7 separate regions of the Homo sapiens genome follow, and regions 1, 2, 3, 4, 5 and 7 are each reported to be linked to region 6. Evidence: microRNA targets listed by miRTarBase, many of them from high-throughput screens and not tested one by one. Region 6 holds a microRNA gene; each other region holds the end of a gene's coding sequence. Distances are between the middles of the regions.

Region 1 (3,575 bases), not on the chromosome of region 6:
TGAGAACTGTTTTAACCTATGAGGACACCTCATGGCTGAATTAAAATATACCTCTAGTGCCCAAAATCTGTAGAATCTTCTGCTGTTTCAAAATCAAGTCTGATTGATTGGTGATATGAATGTATGGGTAGATATTTAGAAATAGGGGACCATATGTTCTGGTCTGCCTGAGACCATCCATATGCCTGTTGTCATTATTAATAGTCCTCTCGCTTGCATCCTCACAGTCCGTCTGCCTATTGTCGTTATTGCTGGTCCTGTCCCTTGCCTCCTCACAGTCTGTCTGCCTGTTGTCGTTATTGATGCTCCTCTCCCTTGCCTCCTCACAGTCCGTCTGCCTGTTGTCATTATTGATGGTCCTCTCCCTTGCATCCTCACAGTCCGTCTGCCTGTTGTCATTATTAATAGTACTCACCCTTGCATTCTCAAAATGTACTAGTTTGTGTTGATAAATTATATGGTCACCCTACTTAGAAGGTACAAAGAAAGAATAAAAGAAGAAAGTTCTTCACCCCATCTCAGAATAACCAAGATCTTTATCTTTGCTGGGGTACTACCCCAAGGCAATTTTTTTTGGATACCATTTTTTAACCTTGACATAGTGGATACATCATTTCTTCCTCCATATATATTTTTCCTCCATTAAAAAAGAAACAAAAACTTTTTTATACCTGGGTTTTGCTCTTGATTTAGCTCTCAAGGTGGTCCTTGTTTACTTTTTAATAATCACTGCTCTTCATCTGTCAATATTTAATTGGTATGATTTATCCCAAAATTGTTTATAGAAAGTCAGTTTTTTGTTTTCAACTCTAGATCTTTGTTCCTGTTCCTCGAGCCTGGTGGTCACCCTCTGGCTTCTGCTAGGCAATCTGTTTCCTCTGCTGGCTGGATTTCTTCTGTGTATATGGCACTAGGAATGGAAAAGTGGATCTTCAAGATATTCTTTTATGTTATGTTCTTGTGAACAAAGCACAAAGTTTGAGTGAGTGCCAACCTATGCAGATGGTAGAAGTGGCATTCCTGGCTTTGGCTTGGAAGAATTGACGACCATCAGACCTTGAAGCAGAACTTCACAGCAGCCTGTCCTCATCAGCAACCCAACCACCTTCATCAGCAACCCAACCACCTTCATCAGCAACCCAACCACCTCGTCAGCAACCCAACCACCTCGTCAGCAACCCAACCACCTCGTCAGCAACCCAGCCACCTTCATCAGCAACCCAACCACCTCATCAGCAACCCAGCCACCTTCATCAGCAACCCAACCACCTCATCAGCAAACCAACCACTTTCATCTGCAACCCAACCACTTTCATCAGCAACTCAACACCTTCATCTGCAACCCAACCACCTTCATCAGCAAACCAACCACCTTCTTCAGCAACCCAACCACCTCATCTTGGAGAAGGAGAAGGAACTGCAAGCCACCAAGTCTTCATTTTTCAGGGTTTGTAATCTTCCCAAAGTTTTCCTTTGAAAATAGGATAATGGGTGGAATTTTCAGAGTGATTACATACCTCAACATTTTTATTAACATACAACAATGGGAAAGTTCATCATCCATATACTGCAGTCACTTAAACAACAGCCAATTATTGCAAGATTAGAATTGGAGATCTTGTCCTCAAAAGTATAAATTGTCCTTTGAGTTATAGAAAATAATGGAATTGGGATTTCTACATATCATTATTATACCTATTTTAAATTTAATGGCAGCCAGGCATGGTTCCAGCTACTTGGGAGGCTGAGGCAGGAGGATCGCTTGAGCCCAGGAGTTCAAGGCTGCAGTGAGCTATGATTGCACCACTGTATTCCAGCCTGCACGATAGAGTTAGACCCTGTATCTTAAAAAAAAAAAAATTAATGGCTGGTATATAGTAAACTTAATTCACTGTTCCCATTGTTCTAAAGAATTTTTTTAAATAATGTTTCATTAAATCTTATGATTTAACCGTGCTTGCCCTTTTTGCCAGCTATGTGGCAGTTTACGGCAGAACTGCTGTCAGTGTGCTGGTAGCCCTCTATTCATCCCTCCTCAGAGCCCAGCTTCCAGAACTGCTATCACTGTGCTGGTAGCCCTCTGTATTCATCCCTCTTCAGAGCTCAGCTTCTGGTTGTATTCTCCATGAGTTTAATAATGACATGAAAAAATGTGGAAGCCGAGAGAGTAAAATACTCTGCCCTGTAAAAACATGGAAGACATGCAAACAGAAAAAAAATAATTGTATTGTTTTAGATAATACTTAAGACAACTGTGAAACAACAAAAACACAACTATTCCTTTGTGACCGATGAAGATAAAAAGAAATTCTGGTAAAGACGGGTATGCAGTTTTTTAAAATGGGTTAAGAAATTGTTGCAGAAGAATTTCTAACATCTGAAAATGGTTTTATGTTTAAGAAGGATGGTCTGAATTGTGTACTAATAGCAAGGTATAAGTTTGGTGTAGAGCCTATCCAGTAGCGTCCACTGTACCACTTTTAAGTAAGACTCAGTCCACAGAAGCTGGAAGATTGCCTTCGCTTTAAATATCCTTTACCTTCTGCATTTGACACTCCTCCTGTTACTACATAGATTCCGGTCCCCAGAAGCAATTTTACACTGGTACTAGAGCTTACCAGCCCCATTTAGTAATTTTTAATGGCTAGATGAGGTTTAACAAGAATATGAAAAGAAAAAAGAAAAAATATATTCATGAATGATAGGCGATGCCCATTCTTTCTCTCAAGCTAATGAAGTCCTATGGCATTCTAACCACAACCCTCGGACAGACTCCTCCTATTCCTCCATGGCATTGTAACCACAACCCTCGGACAGACTCCTCCTATTCCTCCATGGCATTGTAACCACAACCCTCGGACAGACTCCTCCTACTCCTCCATGGCATTGTAACCACAACCCTCGGACAGACTCCTCCTACTCCTCCATGGCATTGTAACCACAACCCTCGGACAGACTCCTCCTACTCCTCCATGGCATTGTAACCACAACCCTCGGACAGACTCCTCCTATTCCTCCATGGCATTGTAACCACAACCCTCGGACAGACTCCTCCTATTCCTCCATGGCATTGTAACCACAACCCTCGGACAGACTCCTCCTATTCCTCCATGGCATTGTAACCACAACCCTCGGACAGACTCCTATTCCTCCATGGCATTGTAACCACAACCCTCGGACAGACTCCTCCTATTCCTCCATGGCATTGTAACCACAACCCTCGGACAGACTCCTTCTGTTCCTCCTTTCCTCGTCCTTCCCTGCTTTTCGTCCATTCAGCATATAGCTATTCAGTACTCCATTGAAGAAATTATGCTAAGTGAGCAAAGCAACATAATTACTAAGAATTAATTCTGATTATTTGGCACTAGAGCCAACAGCAACCCCAGCACAGAGGAAAGTCGCTTTTTTTTCAAATGCATAAATTTAAAGTATGTATTTGCATGCAGTTTTAAATGGGAGGTATTTGTCATTGTGAAAAGCTGGGAATCTCAAACATAGTCAACTTAACTAAAAAGAAGCTAATACAGGTTGAGCATTCCTAATCCAAAAATCCAGAATCCAAATTGCTCCAA
Region 2 (3,575 bases), 96 Mb from region 6:
GAGCATTCCCCACTGTGTGTTACAGGAACAGGCAGAAGCTGAAGGGTGTCAGAGGAGGAGGCTGCTGGTTCCAGTGAATGACGCTGACTCCGCTGACAGTAAGTGTTTTGTGCCTTGAGACGCAGCAGGAGGACAGGGAATAGGGACGGTGTCCTAACTGCTGTCCCTATAGCTGAGAGGGCTCTTCTGGAGGTTTCACTGCTGGAAGCAGGGGGCCCCATGTCGATCCTGTGCTGATCGTCCTTGGAGCATTGAGACCCTAAATCTCTTCTCTCTTCTCAGTCAGCACCTTGCTGGATGCCTCGGCAACACTGGAAGAAGGACATGCAAAGGAAACAATTCAGGACCAACTGGTGGGCTCCGAAAAGCTCTTTTATGAAGAAGATGAGGCAGGCTCTGCTACGTCCTGCCTGTGAAAGAATCTCTTCAGGAAACCAGAGCTTCCCTCATTTACCTTTTCTCCTACAAAGGGAAGCAGCCTGGAAGAAACAGTCCAGTACTTGACCCATGCCCCAACAAACTCTACTATCCAATATGGGGCAGCTTACCAATGGTCCTAGAACTTTGTTAACGCACTTGGAGTAATTTTTATGAAATACTGCGTGTGATAAGCAAACGGGAGAAATTTATATCAGATTCTTGGCTGCATAGTTATACGATTGTGTATTAAGGGTCGTTTTAGGCCACATGCGGTGGCTCATGCCTGTAATCCCAGCACTTTGATAGGCTGAGGCAGGTGGATTGCTTGAGCTCGGGAGTTTGAGACCAGCCTCATCAACACAGTGAAACTCCATCTCAATTTAAAAAGAAAAAAAGTGGTTTTAGGATGTCATTCTTTGCAGTTCTTCATCATGAGACAAGTCTTTTTTTCTGCTTCTTATATTGCAAGCTCCATCTCTACTGGTGTGTGCATTTAATGACATCTAACTACAGATGCCGCACAGCCACAATGCTTTGCCTTATAGTTTTTTAACTTTAGAACGGGATTATCTTGTTATTACCTGTATTTTCAGTTTCGGATATTTTTGACTTAATGATGAGATTATCAAGACGTAGCCCTATGCTAAGTCATGAGCATATGGACTTACGAGGGTTCGACTTAGAGTTTTGAGCTTTAAGATAGGATTATTGGGGCTTACCCCCACCTTAATTAGAGAAACATTTATATTGCTTACTACTGTAGGCTGTACATCTCTTTTCCGATTTTTGTATAATGATGTAAACATGGAAAAACTTTAGGAAATGCACTTATTAGGCTGTTTACATGGGTTGCCTGGATACAAATCAGCAGTCAAAAATGACTAAAAATATAACTAGTGACGGAGGGAGAAATCCTCCCTCTGTGGGAGGCACTTACTGCATTCCAGTTCTCCCTCCTGCGCCCTGAGACTGGACCAGGGTTTGATGGCTGGCAGCTTCTCAAGGGGCAGCTTGTCTTACTTGTTAATTTTAGAGGTATATAGCCATATTTATTTATAAATAAATATTTATTTATTTATTTATAAGTAGATGTTTACATATGCCCAGGATTTTGAAGAGCCTGGTATCTTTGGGAAGCCATGTGTCTGGTTTGTCGTGCTGGGACAGTCATGGGACTGCATCTTCCGACTTGTCCACAGCAGATGAGGACAGTGAGAATTAAGTTAGATCCGAGACTGCGAAGAGCTTCTCTTTCAAGCGCCATTACAGTTGAACGTTAGTGAATCTTGAGCCTCATTTGGGCTCAGGGCAGAGCAGGTGTTTATCTGCCCCGGCATCTGCCATGGCATCAAGAGGGAAGAGTGGACGGTGCTTGGGAATGGTGTGAAATGGTTGCCGACTCAGGCATGGATGGGCCCCTCTCGCTTCTGGTGGTCTGTGAACTGAGTCCCTGGGATGCCTTTTAGGGCAGAGATTCCTGAGCTGCGTTTTAGGGTACAGATTCCCTGTTTGAGGAGCTTGGCCCCTCTGTAAGCATCTGACTCATCTCAGAGATATCAATTCTTAAACACTGTGACAACAGGATCTAAAATGGCTGACACATTTGTCCTTGTGTCACGTTCCATTATTTTATTTAAAAACCTCAGTAATCGTTTTAGCTTCTTTCCAGCAAACTCTTCTCCACAGTAGCCCAGTCGTGGTAGGATAAATTACGGATATAGTCATTCTAGGGGTTTCAGTCTTTTCCATCTCAAGGCATTGTGTGTTTTGTTCCGGGACTGGTTTGGCTGGGACAAAGTTAGAACTGCCTGAAGTTCGCACATTCAGATTGTTGTGTCCATGGAGTTTTAGGAGGGGATGGCCTTTCCGGTCTTCGCACTTCCATCCTCTCCCACTTCCATCTGGCGTCCCACACCTTGTCCCCTGCACTTCTGGATGACACAGGGTGCTGCTGCCTCCTAGTCTTTGCCTTTGCTGGGCCTTCTGTGCAGGAGACTTGGTCTCAAAGCTCAGAGAGAGCCAGTCCGGTCCCAGCTCCTTTGTCCCTTCCTCAGAGGCCTTCCTTGAAGATGCATCTAGACTACCAGCCTTATCAGTGTTTAAGCTTATTCCTTTAACATAAGCTTCCTGACAACATGAAATTGTTGGGGTTTTTTGGCGTTGGTTGATTTGTTTAGGTTTTGCTTTATACCCGGGCCAAATAGCACATAACACCTGGTTATATATGAAATACTCATATGTTTATGACCAAAATAAATATGAAACCTCATATTAAAAAGGTGTGGTGTTCGTTTATTTCCATCCTCCTCTCCTGCTGTGACACAGCTCTGAGTGACAGGAGGCCAGGGCTTCGTTCCTGCTGGGCCTCCTTACTTGTCCCTTCTCTGCCTTCAGGCTTGGCCCGCCTGGCGGTGGGGGTGTGGGGGGAGTTTCCTGCCTATGACTCCCTGGATTTTAAAGGACCAGGTTCTTGGCTACTGGAATTCGCGCCTCCTCCCTGTTTCTCTCCTGTCTGCTCCTCCCTCTGGGGAGAGGGACAGCAGCCCTTCCCTGTATCCCCATCAGTGGACCCAGGTTGCTCAGCCCTGCAGGCACCTGTGAGAGCCATTTCCCACTCCCCTTGCGCTGGAGGACCTGCTCTCCCTCTGGCCCACAGCTCCCAGGAGGCCCAGGCGTGCTCCCATGCTGTCTGCCTTCCCTAGAGGGGAGGTGGGGCTGCGGCTGCTCCATGCTACCTCCTGCTTCCCGCCTGCACTGCCCATGGCCTCACTTGGAACCCTGGGCTGGGTGAGCTGCATGGAGGCTGAGCATGGAGGGGCCTGGGCTTGGGCAACATGGCTTCCCCCAGAGTTAGAGCTGCTTGTGTTGCCACCGCCTACTGTCTATGAGGATTTAACCCCTGATCTCCAAGTCTTGGCGCCACACAGCCATGGCAGGGGTTGTCTTTGTTTCAAGTTTGCTCTATCCCAGACCTAACCAGCGTTTTCCTGGAGCCCACCCCATGGCCAGGCCCTCTCAGCTAGAACATCTTTCTCAGGCAAGGTGACTCCTGAGCTCTGAGCCCAGAGCCCCACTGCCTCCTGGCTCTGCCCTTCCTCCGTGGGACTGCATCTTTTACATCTAAGAAGGATGTGGGCAGTGAAATTTGGGTCAGG
Region 3 (3,575 bases), not on the chromosome of region 6:
TTTGGCAAATATATAATATTTTTTGTGTATGTTTACAAAAGTAATACTGTGCTATGGATCAAAAAGTTTTGACCAGTTTATACATCTATTAACAGTGTATGGGTGAACCTGTAACCCTACATTTTGATGACCACTAACATTTTAATATTTTAACATTTGCTAATCTGGTAGATAGATAAAAGTATGATTATTTTATTGTGAATTTATTTAATTAAGAGTGTCTTAGAACATCTTTTCATTATTTACTGGTCATTTTCATTCTTTTCTGTGAACTTCTATTCATGTCTTTTGGCCATTTTTCCATTGGGTTGTTGACTCATTGATTTGTAAGAGTTTCTTTTCAGTGAAAGGAATTCCTTAAGTAGCTATAACATTAGCTGTATGTATTACATATTAATTTCTAAGTTACTCATCTGTTTTGGGTACTAGATACAGTTGATTTATCATATCTGTGGGTTCTACATCTGCGGATCAAAACTATTTGGGGAAAAACAATAAAATAATACAACAATACAAAAGTAATGCAAATTAAAAAACCAATATAGTATAACAACTGTTTACACAGCGTTTACACTGTATTAGGTATTATAAGTAACGCAGAGATGACTTAGAGTATACAGGAGAATGGTATAGGTTTTATGCAAATACTATGCCGTTTTATATAAGGGACTTGAGCATTCAAGGATGTTGGTATCCATGGGGTTCCTCGAGCCAATCTCCCGCGGATACTGAAGAAAAACCGTATATCATATTTTCATGTAGTGAATGTATCATATTTTTAATTTTATGCTTCATGAGTACATGCATCTTTGCCGTGATGCATTCAGAAATTATGCTTATGTTCTTCTTTTTCCATCCTTTGGGCAGGTTAAAACCCTGCAACAGAACTGAATAATCATTTTAGGCTCTCAGCAACTTTTATTCTGCCTTATCATCTTGCTGCTGATCTCATTTTTGATATTGCCATTCAATAAATATTAACTGAGACCCTACTATATGCCTCGGCCTGTGCTATAAATTGGAGATGAGAAAAACCACTGGCTAAACTAGAGAAACATCGTAAAATACAGTGTACCCTAAGCCACTCACCTTGACCTTTACTAATTTTGTGAAAAAGTACTACTTATTAAATCATTTTATTCTCATCATCCTTCAAAAAATATTCAGCTTGACCCAGAAGATATTTATAAATATTTTTAAAAATTATTTTTCACTCAATTACATTCCTAGAAATGTTAAATGTCTACTTACATCATTTTTGTTGCATGCAGGACTAGCACTATATTTATTAGTACAGGTTACACTGCCATAGCAAGAAAACGCCTTTTTAGGTAAATTTTCCTTTAGGCAAATGTCAGAATTGGGTCACATGGTCATAATCAAGTTGAAGTAAGGCTGAGAAATCTCATGCCTGCCTGGACGGCCACATTATCTGCTAAAATATCAGTGAATTCTATGATTAAAAGAAAATAGAGATATTCAATACTAAGGGACAGCAGCTTCTACCATAGTCCATTTGTGTGGTAAGTCAGTTGTCTCTTTAGTTTTTTCATTCCACATGAAGGATGAGAAAAATTCATGTGGGATGAATTGTTGGACCCTACATTGTTCATCCTTTAGGGCCCAACAATTCTGAGCTTTTGGCTAAGAATCTAGAATCTCTACATGAGGCAAAGTTCTTTCCATGGGTTCTAACGTAGCTTCTTCTTTTTCAATGACCTATATAGATTAGTAGATAATGCAACTGCCACTCAGTGTATCAGTATATACTGATATACAATGGTATATTGGAAATAAAATAGAATGAAATAATAGAATAGAATAGAATGGAATGGAATAGAATCAGGGTAACTGCGATAAAAATTATTACTTAGAAAAGGGAAGAATGGAAAACATAAAAACTCACTTTTCTGTAGCTTTGCTGAAATCTTGCAGGACAAAAATTGCTAAGATTCTCTAGTGGCTACCTGCCAGTAAGTAACTTGATATCGTTAACTTACTTGAACTTGGCTCTGCTCCCTGGGATACTCCCCTGTGCATTGTCTTTTTGATCTCCTGTGATATTAAACATGTACTGTACATGTACATGTATCTAAGTGGATAACAATACAATTCATTTTGTCATGAAAGAGCTGTGTTTTCAAAGGCTTTTAATAAGGTTAAAAAAAAGATAAAATTCCTCTTAGAAAATAACACTTAGCAGTTAATGACATCAAAGTCATATTGACTAAAGAAGGAAAATAGCAACCAATTGTTAAAGCCACCTTAACATAAACCTTATTGCAAGTATACACATCTTTTGAACACAATCTATAGAAAAGAGAATAACTTCCAAGGCATTACAACTTTTTCTCTGGCATGTTAAAAAACAACTCTGACTAATGGCTAATGCATTATAAAATTTCCTATCTGACAAATCTTTCTAGATTATGCATAGTATTTTACTTTTGAAAGGTCATAAAAAAGATATAAATCAGTTTCCATAAGAGCTAATATTGGCCCATAACGAAAGTTTCCTTCAGGTTATTTTAATGTATTAACGTAAGAAAACTCCAGGTGAAGAAGAATTTCAAGCCAAAACTAAGCATTAAAAAATAGGCGTTTGGTTGAGGTTAATTTTTTTTTTTTTTTTTTTTGAGACAGAGTCTCTGTTGCCCAGGCTGGAGTGTGGTGGCGCAATCCTGGCTCACTGCAACCTCAGCCTCCTGGGTTCAAGCAATTTTCCTGTCTCAGCCTTCCAAGTAGCAGGGACTACAGGCGTGCACCACCACGCGCAGCTAATTTTTTTGTATTTTTAGTAGAGGCGAGGTTTCGCCATGTTGGCCAGGCTGGTCTCGAAATCCTGACCCCAGTGATCCGCCTACCTCATCCTCTCAAAGTGCTGGGATTACAGGTGTGAGCCACCGCGCCCAGCCTTAATTTTCAAAAGACAAATAAGCAAAAAGCTTTTCCCGTTCCTCTCCCAAAACAGCAATGAGATAACTGCCTTGTAATGTTTGTTTGCTTTTTACAAATACCAATTTACCACTTGCTGGAATCCCAGCCCAGGAACCAGCCTGTGAATGTGGGTGGCTCATGGCCCTGTTTTATGATGACAATTGGTGTCCTCTTGTCTCTTCCAGAAGGGTCTGTCTCAAGGTACATTTTGGCTAAAAAAAGTTGTAAAGACATATAAATTCAGTTAGTTTGGGTTAAACTAAAGTAACTGCAGATTGAAAATTCTTCGAATAAAAGTAATGAATTAAATTTCCAGAAGAACAAATAAATATTGGCTACATTGAAAATGAAAATTCTTCGAATACAATTCTTCAAATCAAAGTAATAAATTTCCATTGACCAGGTAGACAAATACAATTTCTTTTTGATTTCTCTCGTCTGCCATGAAAGGCAACATGTGAATCTCATTAATGCCTGAAAGAATTCCAAGTTTTATGGAATTGTCCTTGTGGCATAATTATTGTTATACGTTTCAGTAAAAGGAAAATTGTGCCAGAAAGAACAGCATAGTCAAAAGGAAGTTTAAAAAATCTGGCTTATCACAGTCATGGAGGTTTTACTCTTATAATAAAACAAGG
Region 4 (3,575 bases), not on the chromosome of region 6:
GAGGATTTTTTTTTATCAGCTTCCCTTCATAAGAGAGGATGGAGGATTTTGGAAGAGACAGAACCTGGGAGAAATTCAGTGAGCTGCCACTTACTGTTAACTACTCCACAGAAGAACTATATGTTTATTGGAATTCAGTAAATGTGGCATGTAAGGATTTAGTCAATGTCTGGCAAAATGCTGCCACTTAGGACCCATTTGGCTAATACTAGAAGTAGTCATCAAGTTAACTGTAACTGCCCAACATTTTCTTAGAAGCCAAAGAACTTAAACTTTTATAGAAGAACGCCCAGTCAGTACTATATTAATGTGTGTATTACATTTATTGACTGTTGAACAGAGCCTGATTCCCAAGAGTCTTTAAGGCCATAATAAATGCAAAAATTGTAACTAAATTTCCTTTGTACTCTTCAGTCTTTCTTGTAACCTCAATGAAACTGAAAGTACTATTTTAAAAGTACAATGACTACGACAAAATTCCATTTAAAAATCTTTAAAGTGTTGGGTTCTGAGGCTTTTGAACTTGAATATTTACACTGACCCCAATAAATTCTCCTCTAACCAAGTTCTCATGTCAGCCAAGGGGGATTATGCTGGATAGTAAGGATGTCTACAAGTAAATCCACTTGCAAAACTATAAAAGGAGCTTCAGGGGCATTTAATGGTCTGGAAGATCTAGAAAGATCCAAGGAGGGTAGGGAGTAATATTCATCCACCACAGCCACCTCACCCACATTCCAGAGTTGCTGAAATTATTACACACATGTAAACATAAGGACAAGACAAAGTTTTTTCAAGAAATTAGAAAGGAATGACCGGGCGCGGTGGTGGCTCACGCCTATAATCCCATCACTTTGGGAGGCCGAGGCAGGCAGATCACAAGGTCAGGAGATCGAGACCACCCTGGCTAACACGGTGAAACCCTGTCTCTACTAAAAATACAAAAAATTAGCTGGGCGTGGTGGCGGGTGCCTGTAGTCCCCAGCTACTCAGGAGGCTGAGGCAGGAGAATGGTGTGAACGTGGGAGGCAGAGCTGGCAGTGAACCAAGATCGCACCACTGCACTCTAGCCTGGGCGACAGAGCGAGAGACTGTCTCAAAAAAAAAAAAAAAAAAGAAAAGAAAAGAAATTAGAAAGGAACATGGCTTAACCATGTCTATTTAGACATAAGTTAATATATAGGACAAAGTTACCTATCCCTTCTCATTGACTTAATAACAAAACTCTCAAAATGGGCTTTTATTGGATATTATTGTGATTAAAACTTTCCAATTTCTCCTTCACTATTATAGCAAGCTATAGGAGATGTCTTGTTTTCCAGCTCCATATCTGCTGAATAGACTAACCAAACAGAAGCCTTCAGTCTCTGTAAGCCATTCTTGCTCAAGAAAGTAGTCCTGAGAACAGTCTAGAAGAAACCAATCCTGAAACAAAGAAAACTTTTCCACTAAACTCTCCTGACATTCATACATTTTGCAAGGGAGAACGCATTTAATTAAGCTGCTATTGTCATTGCAACAAGTCTTAACTGTACCATGGAGATATGTTTTGGTTATACATTGAAATAATAGCATGTTTAATTAAGGTATTACAGAATGTTTCTGTTTCACTATATTCATAGCAAAAATTTTTCAATGTATCAGTGACAGTTGAGATTAAAGAAAAAATCAACCCTGAATATAGCTAACATATTGGGATGAAAATTTCCCTCTAGCTGCCTTTCCCTCTGAAGCATCTACATATTTTCCTTGTTAATAAGCAATGCTTTCACATAAATTATTTAATTATATGGCTTTGTCATGCTGCTGACATAAAACATATCTGCAAAAGCAAGGACTGGATTCCTAAATGTCTGTAGGAAGATTTAGTGAAGATTCAGTGCTCATCACTGTGGAGTTCCCACTGGCTGATAAAAACCTGCAAGAAACCTGTATAATAAAGACAGGCGTGCATCCCTAGAAGCACAGGGTGATGGCTCCAAAATCTTTCCTTCTAGTTTGGAAGGAGCAAGGTGTCTCCCGTCTTCCCCAGCACAGCTGTGCCAATTGTCAAGTGTGTCACTGACTATGCAAAAGCTGCAGGGTAGATCTGCAGGTGAGGAGGTACAAGGCAGAAAAGCCAGAACCGGGGAGTGTCCAGGGGCACCTGCAGCCCTGTGATTCTATGTTACTTGCCAGTGATGTGCCTCCTGGTGGATGTGATACTAATGTTCCTGGTTGAAATACTGCAGGGAAACAAAGGGCCTCCTCTGTGGTGCTATATGGAATTTGGCTTTTTCTTGGACCTTTCAAGATGGATGTTTTCTGGTTTTAGAACTCTGTCTTGATGCACAGAAAGCAAAGCATTCAGTGGGCAATGGGAGGCAGAGATGAAGAATGCAACGGTTGGAAATAAAAGCCTTTGCCAGGATGTGCTGGGAATTTTTTGCTGTTAAACACATCTGAGTGATAATTTCAATGTCTGTCATAAAACCTAGGATATTTAATGATGAATGCATGTATAACTGACACACTCGATGCTGTAAATGATGTCCCTCAATTTGAATGTTTCTAAACATAAACCACTTCATATGGTCAGGAACATCACCAAAACCTGTCATTGAAACCAACCCTGATGAGGGGTACTCATGGCAGAAGAATAAGTTGTTAACATTTCTGGAGGTATCATACCCATGGTCATACATGTGTTTTCTTTCTAGCTATCCTTGGTTTTGCATCTTTCTTGAGCCTTATTTTTTTAAAAAAACCATTTCTATGTTCAAAGCAGTAATACATACTCAATGGCTTAGAAAGAGAAGGATTATCATGACCACCACTAAATTACTGTTTAAAGACTCAAAACTACACTGTCTAAAATCTATCTTCAAGTATTCTTTTGTGACTTTGAGTACAACAGTAGTACCTTATTGCACATTGATTCCCAAGAAACCCTTTTTAAGAGTGTGGAATGACTGGACTTGGTGCAGGGCAGTGCACCGCCTGGAAGCCGGGAAGAACCACCTTGCCCTTGCGATGCAAATCCCCCTGCGTGCCCATGTTCAGGCGCTGCACCAGGAGCTTCTCATAGAGTAGTGGGTGGTACGCCCCGAGGGTGCAGGCTGCGTCGTAGTACAGCTCGTGGTAGTGGCACAGCTCCGTCTGCCGCACGGATGGGATATATTCATACACGTGCACCTCTCTGCACATGGACATCATTATGAGGATTCCTGACATGAAAACCAAAAATTAGAACCTAATGAACAACTCCATGTGAGAGGGATGAGTTTTTTGGGGGAGGGGTGGTGGTGATGGGATATGACTGTGGCAAGAGACACTTACTTTTTTGTTGTTGTTGCATTTGCAATGTTATAACTTCCATTAAGTGGTGTGTATGCAGTTCATGGAGTATGGGGGCATATTAAAATGTAACACTATATATATATATATCTATTCGCTCATTTAATTTATCACTGTGGGCCTGGTAAGGAGAGATGAAAAGAAGTCAGTGAACTTGAGGGAACCACACGCTAGTGAAGGACAGATTTGCAACCCCCCAAATCAGAGTTTCCTGTATCACATTCTATACACATGTCCCA
Region 5 (3,000 bases), not on the chromosome of region 6:
GTAGAAACACATATAGAGGCATTTAAAGACATCTTATTTGATATCATACTATTGGTTGTTTTTAACCTTTTAAAAAATTACTTTGTAATATTGTCACTCCAATTCAAATATTTTTCCCCAACTACTTTGTGATAAAAGCAGTTAAATTTCCCAAAGTAAATAAAAACTCCTTGCCTATATAAAAACATGTGAAAGCTGAAAGATAGTGAACATTTGGCTTAAAATATTAACAACTTTATTGCTTTCTCCCCCTATTCCTAGTTGCTGGGCATATTGGATTTTACCCATCATAGGCGCTGTTCTCTTAGGTTTCCTGTACCGCTACTACACATCGGAAAGCAAATCCTCCTGAGGAGGCCTTGCTGAAGTTAGAAAGTGCATCCACTTTGGGGCGAAAACTAGAGACTTGCTTGGGGGCTGCAGAAGTGCCCTCTCCTCGAATCCTGCCAGTTGCATTCTTCCCCCTTGGAGCCAAGACGATTGGCCAGACATCACCTCAGATCTGAGACCAGCGTCTTCCATCTCTCAGAGCCTTACTCCCAAAGTACCTGCTCACTGTTCCGTGTTGAACAATTGCCGGTGTTTCCTCTCTTCACTGGTTTCCATGAGTACCCTTATATTTCACAACTTTCTGTTCATAAGTTATAGTGACATTGCTCTTTGGTAAAAATGCCTGCTTTCCAATACTTTGATTGCATATTAGACATTCTTAACAGGGCGGCAGTCTAGTGTTGAAAGTTTTATTTTTCCATTTTTCTTTTAAGTAAATTTTTTTTAAAAAATTCTGATTTAGGGCTAGGTGTGGTGGCTCAGGCCTGTAATCCTGGCACTTTGGGAGGCCAAGGTGGGAAGATCGCTTGAGGCCAAGAGTTCAAGACCAGCCTGGGCAACATAGCGAGACCCCTATCTGTATTAAAAAAAAATCTGATTTAATTCTTTTATTTATCATAAGGGGTTTAATTCCTGAAGTAAAGGTTTGCACCTATTAAACTTAAAACTGCCAAATGATTTTTGTTCTTTTATGTGCGTGATAAAAATACAAAGAATGGTGTGGCCACCTCCTCCCTTTCAAGCTAGGGCAGCAGGTAGCTCTTCCCAGCCCCTGAGCCCAGCCCCTTCCCAAGTGGTGCCGGACAAAAAACTACATGGCCCTTTCGTGTCTTGGGGGTGGAAAGGTAGGGATGAATTGGGGTGATAGAACCCTGGTGAATTCAGAGTAATCTTTCTTTAGAAAACTGGTGTTTTCTAAAGAAACAGGATAGGAGTTTAGAGAAGGCACCAAAGCTTTCACTTTGGTTTGGCACCAGTTTCTAACCATCTGTTTTTTCTACCCTAGCTATCTTTTATTGGTAAAATATAAATGTATAATTATGTTTGTAGAGCTTTACCAAGGAGTTTCCCTCCTTTTTTGTTTGTTGATTAGCAAATTTTTGATTCTCCATTTTCCAAAAGTAAGAGACTCCAGCATGGCCTTCTGTTTGCCCCGCAGTAAAGTAACTTCCATATAAAATGGTATTTGAAAGTGAGAGTTCATGACAACAGACCGTTTTCCATTTCATCTGTATTTTATCTCCGTGACTCCAACTTGTGGGTTTGTTCTGTTTTTCCATGAGAATAAAATACTGGCGGTTTTTTTCTCAGATGTGTGTTCATTGAGAAGTAGGTTACTAGAATTATGTTACTGTGTCTTATTGGTTCAATGATGATTTCTCTGGCATATTAGACTTTTATTTTTTCCCCCATGGAAGCACTTGAGGAAATAAATAGTACACTGGCTGTTTTCTGCCAGCAACTGTGGTGATTTTTCTCCCTGTCCTTTGAGAATTGCTAGTCTGCTTCTGAGCCATTGTCATATCCAGCAGGGAGCAGCTTGGTTCAAGAAGGACCATAGAGGCTGCTCAGCATCTCCTCCCTCCCTCCCAGCTTGCCAGGGATTTGATGAGACAGGAAACTGCCCAGCAAACCAGGGACTGCCCATGTAAACTATTTAAGAAAAAGTTCAACCCAGGTCTTGTATCCTGTGATTTAGCAGTTGAATGAATACAGAATTCATCAAAATAATATTAACCTTGTACTTGCACACTTGGATATATTTGGGAGTAATTTTAGGAGATTTCTGGCTGACTTTTATTATCAGGGATATGGGTTTAGTAAAGCTTTTATCTTTAGAAAAATGTTTGTATGCATTATAAGATGCTACTTTTAAGACAATATTGAAAAAAACTTTGGTTATTATTTAACAAAAGTGGTATGACTTGATGCTTCTCTATTTAAAGGCAAGGAAGGATTGGTATATGATTGCCTGTAATAAATAAATTGCGTGATTATTGGAGTACATTGGGGTAAAAGTAAAGAACAGAGGAGTATTGAGGAGCTTGAAAGGGAACATTCAAACTAAAGCCAAGCCTGAAGATAACTTGAATCAGTTGTAAAAGTGTGTTGGCAATGTCCGAAATTGAATGAAAAACATCTGGCTTATAAGAAATGTTAAAGAACTACCATCTTAAGTAAAATTGGTGTTTTTGTTATTTTTAAGGTAAATGCCAATGCAAAAGGTATGTTTTTCTACTTCACATTGGTTTTCTTTTCCTGTTTACATCTGCACTTGTTTTTTGCTGAGAGCCAGAGGAAAAGATAATTAGACTTTGTCTCTTCCACCCATGAAATCCCCCAGTACCCAGGGCTTCTTCTGAACTACTGCCGATGTGATGTCACTTTGTATCTGGAAAATCACTTTGGGGTCCATTTACTGTTATTTTGTTGCCTACAAAAACAGCCAGGTGAAAGCTAAATCTTGTGTGAGAGTTTGCAGAGGTTTTTCTATACAATAAAGTAGTATAGCACACTAGCCAAATCCATCCAAAAGGACCTTTTTTTTAGGAAGTAGACTTGAATTCACAAAACAGTCTTGACATGGGTAGCTGGTGAAAAACCCTCTGGAGAGCAAGTGGAGCCAGTCCCCATTGGCTGACAGTGCCACCTGGAGCTGGTCTCTGGGGT
Region 6 (3,575 bases):
TGTGATATATATGTGATATATATATATATCACATGTGATATACATATATTTTCTTTATCCAGCCCACCACTCATGGGCACCTAGGTTGATTCCATGTCTTTGCTATTGTGAATAGTATGGTGAACACATGAGTGCATGTCTCTTTTTGGTAGAATGACCTGTATTCCTTAAGAGTATATACCCAGTAATAGGATTACTGGGTCAAATAGTAGTTCTAAGTTCTTCGAGAAATCACCAAACTGCTTTCCACAGTGGCTAAACTAACTTACATTCCCACTAACTGTGTCTAAGTGTAACCTTTTCTCCACAGCCTCATCAGCACATGCTGTTTTTTGACTTTTTAATGATAGCTGTTCTGACTGGTGTGAGATGGTATCTCATGGTTTTGCTTTGTATTTCTCTCATGATTAGTGATGGTGAGCATTTTTTCATGTTTGTTGGCCACTTGTCTTCTATTGAGAAGTGTCTGTTCACGTTCTTTGTCTATTTTTAAATAGGGTTATTTGGTTTTTGCTTGTTGATTTGTTTAAATTCCTTATAGACTGGATATTAGACCTTTGTCAGATGCATGGCTTGGGAATATTATCTCCCATTCTATATGTTGTCTGTTTACTCAGTTGATGGTTTCTTTTTCTGTGGAGAGCTCTTCAGTTTAATTAGGTCCCACTTAACAATTTTTGTTTTTGCTGCAATTGCTTTTGGGGACTTGGCCATAAATTCTTTGCCAAGGCTGATGTCAAGAGGGTATTCCCTAGGTTTTCTTCTGGGATTTTTATAGTTTGAGGTCTTACATTAAAATCTTTAACCCATTTGTAGCTGATTTGTGTATATGATGAAAGGGTCCAGTTTCATTCTTCTGCATATGATTAGACAGTTATCCTAGCACCATTTATTGAATACGGAGTCCTTCCCCAATTTATTGTTTTTGTCAGCCTTAGAAGACTGCCTATATTTCTAATTGATTACTCCTAATGGGTTTCAACTTAGCCAGAAGGATATTTCCAAAAATCAGATCAATCTTATTATAACTCTAAACCTGGCATCTGACTTCTCTCAGTGTAGACCAAGTAACAACACCAGACATAAGGAAACAGTGTGTATTAGGTGATTCAACCATAACACCTCACTATCACTAATACAGCATAAGCAAAGACATCCCACTCCTCTACCATCTCCCCCTTCATACTACATAGACATCCACACATGCACACACGTACACACATTCACACCCCCCCACCCACAACATGCACACACCCCTTTACATCATCATCAATACAACAGGCACTGGGAAAAAGATAAAGAGAGGGAGAAAGCCAACAACACATCCAACCCTATCCATATCGACACATAAACCCTGTTCAATACGTATACTATACAGAAGCCCTGCACAAGCTTTTAAAAAAGGAAAGTTTTACTACCCCAAATTAAGACTATTTTTAATCAGAAGTAAATAAAAAGTTATTTGTCAAACTGAGATATCACTGTTTCTTGTTGCCCAGCAGGGAAGGAATTCAACAAAGCAAACCTGGCAACAGTTATTGAAAAAAAAAATAGAATTGTCTTACATTCACAAACCATTAACTTGAAACTTCTTCATCAAAACTTTTATTTGTGCAAAGGCCTAGAGGTAAGAATAATCATGATTTATTCAGAGAAAGAAAGAAAATTTCAGAATGTTTGGAGCAGAGAAAACAAGAGAGAAGGAAAAAAGATGGGATTGAGTGGCTAAATGAAGGCAGTTTATAAATAACCCCCAAAGTATTATTCTAAATGTAATGGGGGATGATATTTAATCAGGATAATGCTATGATCTGACTGGATTTTTGGAACCATCCCTCTGGCTCCAATAGAAACATTTTTGGAAGTAATGAATTCAAAATACGGAAGACCAGAAAGGAAGGTGTTTTGAGACTAAAGACAAAAGATGATTGCCTGAACTATGATAATAACAAAAGATGAAGGTAAGCAAAAAATAAAAGGAGAGCCATTTTATCAAATAGAAACACAAGGCTTGATAACTGATTACATATAAAAAGTAAATGAGAAAAGGGCAAGTCATGGAAAATTATTGGGTATTTGGCTTTTATAATTAGGTAGATGGTGGTAATTTCACTGATAAAAAGGACACTAAAGGGGGATATTTATAGGATTTTATGTGGTGATATCTACTAGGTGACTAACAAATTAGATCTGAAGCTCTGGAGAAATATCTTGGCTGAAGATATAGATTTGAGAATCATGATTGAAATTATATAATTGAATTTGTGAGTATGAAAAATATAATCCTCAAAGAGAGGCTACGTGAAGCAAAAAAATAAAAATTCTATCTAGGCTAGAATCTGGAAGAAAATTCATATACAAGAGATTAGCAGAAAGCAGGGAAATTCAAAACAAACTGGGAAAAAGCAGAGTAATTAGAGAAAGTTTAAAAAATGTAATAATAATAGGGAAAAATATTTCACAAAGTAGGGAATATTCAAGATTGTATTAGGTTGGTGCAAAAGTGATTGTGGTTTTTGCTGTTACTTTTAATGGCAAAAACTGCAATCACTTTTGCACCAACCTAATAAATTTGCTGCACAGAGATCAAGTCAGTTGAGGATCAGTTAAAGAAATTATTGGTGACTCTGGCAAGAGCACTTTCAGTGGTGTAGCATGGGACTGGTCTATCAAAACTGCCATCTTATAATCATTCATATAAAACAACTAACCAATAATAAGAATATGGAAGACAGACTCGGCCTGTGTGCTTTGGCAACTTTAAGTTCCTTTGGTACTGCATATGCTGATCAACAAAGTAAATGATATTGAAGGTGTTGAGAGTATGGATACTATGCAATAAGAAATTACCCACAACACAAATGTACCAGAATTTGATTTGACGTGGAAATTTTACAAAATTTGTTTTGGGATTCAAGCTTGCTCTTTGGAAGAATAGTGAAAGACTTACTTATCATCTCCGGAACTCTAAACTTGCTGATGATCAAGGATGAGACAACCAAAATTATTATCACCATAAAAATATTAGTTAGAAGGATTGCATATCATTCAAAGTGTAGTATTACTACCTAAACATTCACTTTCAAATATATTCAAAATTGACTTGGAGTAAAAATTAATATCCATATATGCTTTATATGTTGCAATTCTTCCCAGAAAATCTTATCTTAGGGTCCATTTCACCATCAATATTTACAATGGCAGAGCTCAAAACAGAATAGCTTGCTCCTCCTTTGATCTAAATTGAAAGTGAGAGTCTACTGTATTGGGATTACACAGGTTTAGTGTATTGACCTCCACTGAGAAGGCTGGGAAATCATTGTGTTGTACAGTAATGTCAAATTATACACTTTGACTTTGAGCATTTTTAATGACAAAATTAAAATAAAATGTGGAAATTTTAATATTTATTCTTTTTTCCCAGAAGTTCATGCCATGAAGTGATATTCATCTTCAACTTCAACTTAGGCTGAATATTGACTTTAACCCTTGGCTAGACATTCAGCTAAAATGTGTAATTTCGTGGACCCTACCCAACAGTGTTTCATGGGCTTTTTTAGAAGGGTCTGCAATGT
Region 7 (3,552 bases), not on the chromosome of region 6:
GAAATCCTTGCATTCCTTTGCAAGCCTGTAAATTGCATGGTTTTGTTTTTAAGTGCAATGGAAATGAGTAAGAACTCAATGGAATAATTTTTCATTTTGTAGTTTCTGATTGTGCAAAGGATCAAAACAAGGGTAAAGACCAATTAAAAACATGCTAACACTATTCTATTTCTGTGTGAAGATCTATCGGAACAGAAAAAGCCTTTTAGTATAAGTATACGTACAAAAAAGTCAACTTTTTTTCTGTGACTGAGAAAGCTCTCACAGATAAGTGAGCTAGCTCTGAAATACATAAAACCTTTTCATATGTAAATAAAGTAAAACCTGGCAGCTCTACCATCTGTGAAGGTGTGAGAGTTCTTAGAAAATGACTCATTCAGTTAGGCAAAGATGTGAAACCATATTTGAATGTAAAAATATGCAAACTACACAGAATCTAGGATATTGGGGGCAGCAACAGCACATACTCTTAACAATACAGTGTTTAGAATAAACGTGAGATTGTTGAGAAATTGACAAATACTACAGTAGTGAATGAAAAAACTAAAAGTAATAAATACTGCTTTTGAAAAATTGGTCTGACTTAGTATGTAAAAATAAGTGTTAAAGGGCCTACAGAGATCATTTATTTCAACACCATTTTCAGATTACAGCACTAAAAAAGAATCGTAGGCCCAGAGAGGTTGAGTGAGTTGCCAATAGGACATAGAAAGCTTGTGGCGCTGGCAGGACTGGATGTACAGTGTGCTGATGCCTAAGTCTCATCTCTTTCTTCTAGACCTGGCTCCTCTTTACTTCTGAGAAAAATCCTCTACTGACTTTAATGTGTTTCTATAGTATTTAGGGCCTAAAAGATATCCTTTCTCTTGTGCTGGCTCAGGAATTTATTATTAACTTGAGTGTTCCATATAACATATTCAAGCTTTCACATCCAGAAAACTGGCGTCTTGATGGTTTTCATGAGACAAGACAGAAAACTGCATCTTATGATATAAGGCAAATCACAATGCTATCTTTTTCAGAATTATCTTTTCACGTGATAACTCCCAAAATGTGCAATTTTACTCATTATTTTATTTATCTAAGCTTTGCAGAATAGAGTAATTGAATTCTCCAAATCTGTGTTGAGTAGAAATCCTCCAACACTGTCCTAATGTCAGGGAGACACAACTTTAATTGATGCCTTCTCCTCCACCCCCCTCAAAAAATGGGAGCCAGTGTTCCTAGGAATATTTGATATCTTTCTCTTCTTTAATTGGCAATCAGTTCTCATTCTAATAAATGGGGAAATATACCACATAAAACCAATCAACTGGTTTGGTTTTCCTTGCCCCCAAAGTTGGGAAAATGGAGAAACAAATAGAATTCAAATTTTGCTCCATTTACCTAACATGCATATAAAATTGACTATTTCCGAGGTACTAAGATATGTGGTAAAATTTTAACTTTTTCTCCTAAAAAGAAACAATGATACTAGTGATCTAAAACAGGGGTCCCCAGTGCCTGGGCCACAGACTGGTACCTGTCTGTGGCTTGTTAGGAACCGGGCCACACAGCAGAAGGTGAGTGGTAGTTGAGCAAGCATTACCACCTGAGCATGGCCTCCTGTCAAATCAGCAGCGGCATTAGATTATCATAGGAGCGCGAATCCTATTGTGAACTGCACATGTGAGGGATTTAGGTTGCATGTCCCTTATGAGACTCTAATGCCTGATGATCTGAGGTGGAACAATTTCATCCCAAAACTATCTTACCCCACTACCCCTCCATTCTTGGAAAAATTGTCTTCCACGAAACTGGTCCCTGGTGCTAAAAAGGTTGGGGACCACTGATCTAAAACAATGATCAATTAAAACCATTTCAGTTTATGATTTTAATTCCAGTCTAAACAAAAGTTAATTATTGTTACCAAACTATACATATAATCAGAGATTCATATAATTGAAGATTATATGAATAGTTTGGTGACAATAATTAACTTTTGTTTAGACTGGAATTAAAATTTGTCTGCATATATTACTGGAAAATCAAAGACTTTATAGCACCCATGCTTCTTACTAATGCAAATATAGGAGCTGTGCAGGTAAGCAGTTTGGTAAGAAGTAAAGGGTGTGAACATTGGAGTCACATTGCCCAGTTCAAAGCTCAGTGCTGCCACTGTTATCCAAACAACTCCAGATAAGTTCCTTCATCTTTGCATCTCATTTTGTAAAACAAGAGCACTAATACTGCTTACAAGGTAGGATTGAGATGATATATACATTGCACTAACAAAATACTTAGTATTTAACAAGAGTTTAGCTTAGCTGTAACTAGGAGACTGGGCTAGTGGCACACTAACCTAGTATATCTCCTGGGAGTTTTCTTTGTATTTCTTTTTTTTTTTTTTCAAAGCTCCAAAATCTATGTTATTAGCTTATTTATCATTTACTTTTTTCTTTTAAAAATAATATCTGTTTAGTTGAGGTCAGACAGACAGAATGATTATAAACCCCATCTATGTTTAAAAGTGGCTATATAACCCATCATTCTTTGTCTCTATCTCTCTGTTTTACTGGTTTCCCATTGATTACTGAATTAAATAAGACCCTTGACATGTTCATTTTTAGATCTGTTGAAGAGTCATAATTATATCTTGCTTAAAGATTATCTTTTAGCAAATTACCATTTAATACAATTAAGAGCACATTTTCTAAATCGATGAAAAGGAGAAGAAATAAAAAACCCATGCCCACTAAAAAGCTGTCATGACCATGTTTTTCTTTCAAGTGTTAAAAAACATGTTACTATTTTGCATTCTTGACTTACTCCAAGTTAAGTGACAAGGTCATAATTATTACTAGAAAAGATATAGCAACAGTTGTATTTTGTTTTGTTTAATTCAGTGCCGATGTATGAGTTATGTCACATTTCCTGTAAATGTAAATTTAAGGTTCTCATTTCAAATTTCTCAACATAAAAATACGAAGCCATAAGCAACCAGGTGGCACTCACACACCTTTTTTTTTCTTGAAAACTGTGATGTACATTTAGTTGGTGGCTCTGTAGTTCACATGGATTTCTGGTTTCATGTCACAGACCATGCTCAAGAGCTGGTTCATCACACTTTCCATATACTTATTGTAGTGTCCATTAAGTTCTTGTATCTTCCCTAGTGTTTGTTCTTCTATTTCATCTGAGAGATTATTCTGAGAGCCCATTATCTACCAAAACAAAACAGACAGAATTCACATCATAATACAATTGTTTTACAAGTTAAATTTGTCCTAGCCTGTTTACTGATGATTGTCCTACAATGCACAATTATGTACTCCTTTTCTAGATTTTTTCAGAGAACCAACAAGATCATCAATGCCATGAGTGGGAAGGATGAACTTTCATAAAATATTGAAACTGGTCATAGCAGATTACTTTCACTTTTAACCAACCTCCACATGGTACAAATTGAATACACATTTATAATCATTAAACCATGCCCAGAAGTTCTTTTCCATCACATTTTTCATGTATTTATGACAGTTTCCATTTAGTTCCCATATATTCCCTATTGTT

The links. Region 6 holds the annotated microRNA hsa-miR-548az-3p (AAAAACUGCAAUCACUUUUGC, at 2,537-2,557, shown strand). A microRNA usually pairs through its seed, bases 2 to 8, with sites in the 3' UTR of a target mRNA and lowers its output. Matches are read on the target gene's strand: a 7mer-m8 pairs with bases 2 to 8, a 7mer-A1 pairs with bases 2 to 7 and ends in A, and an 8mer does both.
Region 1: the mRNA of LMLN is a reported target of hsa-miR-548az-3p. Seed matches in the 3' UTR shown: 7mer-m8 at 2,329-2,335 and 8mer at 3,447-3,454.
Region 2: miRTarBase lists TNFRSF10D as a target of hsa-miR-548az-3p. Seed matches in the 3' UTR shown: 7mer-A1 at 2,264-2,270.
Region 3: the mRNA of SCIN is a reported target of hsa-miR-548az-3p. The part of its 3' UTR that is shown has no 7-base or 8-base seed match.
Region 4: miRTarBase lists ST6GAL2 as a target of hsa-miR-548az-3p. Seed matches in the 3' UTR shown: 7mer-A1 at 1,261-1,267.
Region 5: miRTarBase lists CYB5B as a target of hsa-miR-548az-3p. Seed matches in the 3' UTR shown: 7mer-A1 at 737-743.
Region 7: miRTarBase lists ATP6V1G3 as a target of hsa-miR-548az-3p. Seed matches in the 3' UTR shown: 7mer-m8 at 3,013-3,019.

The regions. Positions count from the first base shown.
Region 1 is chr3:198,037,754-198,041,328 of GRCh38, forward strand. It overlaps LMLN (leishmanolysin like peptidase), which reads left to right. Exons shown (of 17, transcript NM_001136049.3): 17 at 814-3,575. The coding sequence ends at 914. LMLN-AS1 (LMLN antisense RNA 1) reads right to left here and starts at 1,714. Exons shown (of 4, transcript NR_046669.1): 1 at 1,696-1,714; 2 at 1,394-1,471; 3 at 995-1,105; 4 at 568-910.
Region 2 is chr8:23,134,711-23,138,285 of GRCh38, reverse strand. It overlaps TNFRSF10D (TNF receptor superfamily member 10d), which reads left to right. Exons shown (of 9, transcript NM_003840.5): 8 at 26-98; 9 at 283-2,698. The coding sequence ends at 416. Among named protein-coding and RNA genes, the nearest start is that of TNFRSF10D, 28 kb to the left of the region's middle.
Region 3 is chr7:12,652,162-12,655,736 of GRCh38, reverse strand. It overlaps SCIN (scinderin), which reads right to left. Exons shown (of 16, transcript NM_001112706.3): 16 at 1-3,149. The coding sequence ends at 3,022. Among named protein-coding and RNA genes, the nearest start is that of ARL4A, 34 kb to the left of the region's middle.
Region 4 is chr2:106,803,744-106,807,318 of GRCh38, forward strand. It overlaps ST6GAL2 (ST6 beta-galactoside alpha-2,6-sialyltransferase 2), which reads right to left. Exons shown (of 6, transcript NM_001142351.2): 6 at 1-3,206. The coding sequence ends at 2,935. Among named protein-coding and RNA genes, the nearest start is that of ST6GAL2, 81 kb to the right of the region's middle.
Region 5 is chr16:69,462,169-69,465,168 of GRCh38, forward strand. It overlaps CYB5B (cytochrome b5 type B), which reads left to right. Exons shown (of 5, transcript NM_030579.3): 5 at 262-3,000. The coding sequence ends at 352. Among named protein-coding and RNA genes, the nearest start is that of CYB5B, 39 kb to the left of the region's middle.
Region 6 is chr8:119,322,692-119,326,266 of GRCh38, forward strand. MIR548AZ (microRNA 548az) reads left to right here and starts at 2,480; the gene lies at 2,480-2,574.
Region 7 is chr1:198,520,362-198,523,913 of GRCh38, forward strand. It overlaps ATP6V1G3 (ATPase H+ transporting V1 subunit G3), which reads right to left. Exons shown (of 3, transcript NM_001376861.1): 3 at 2,861-3,203. The coding sequence ends at 3,030. Among named protein-coding and RNA genes, the nearest start is that of ATP6V1G3, 19 kb to the right of the region's middle.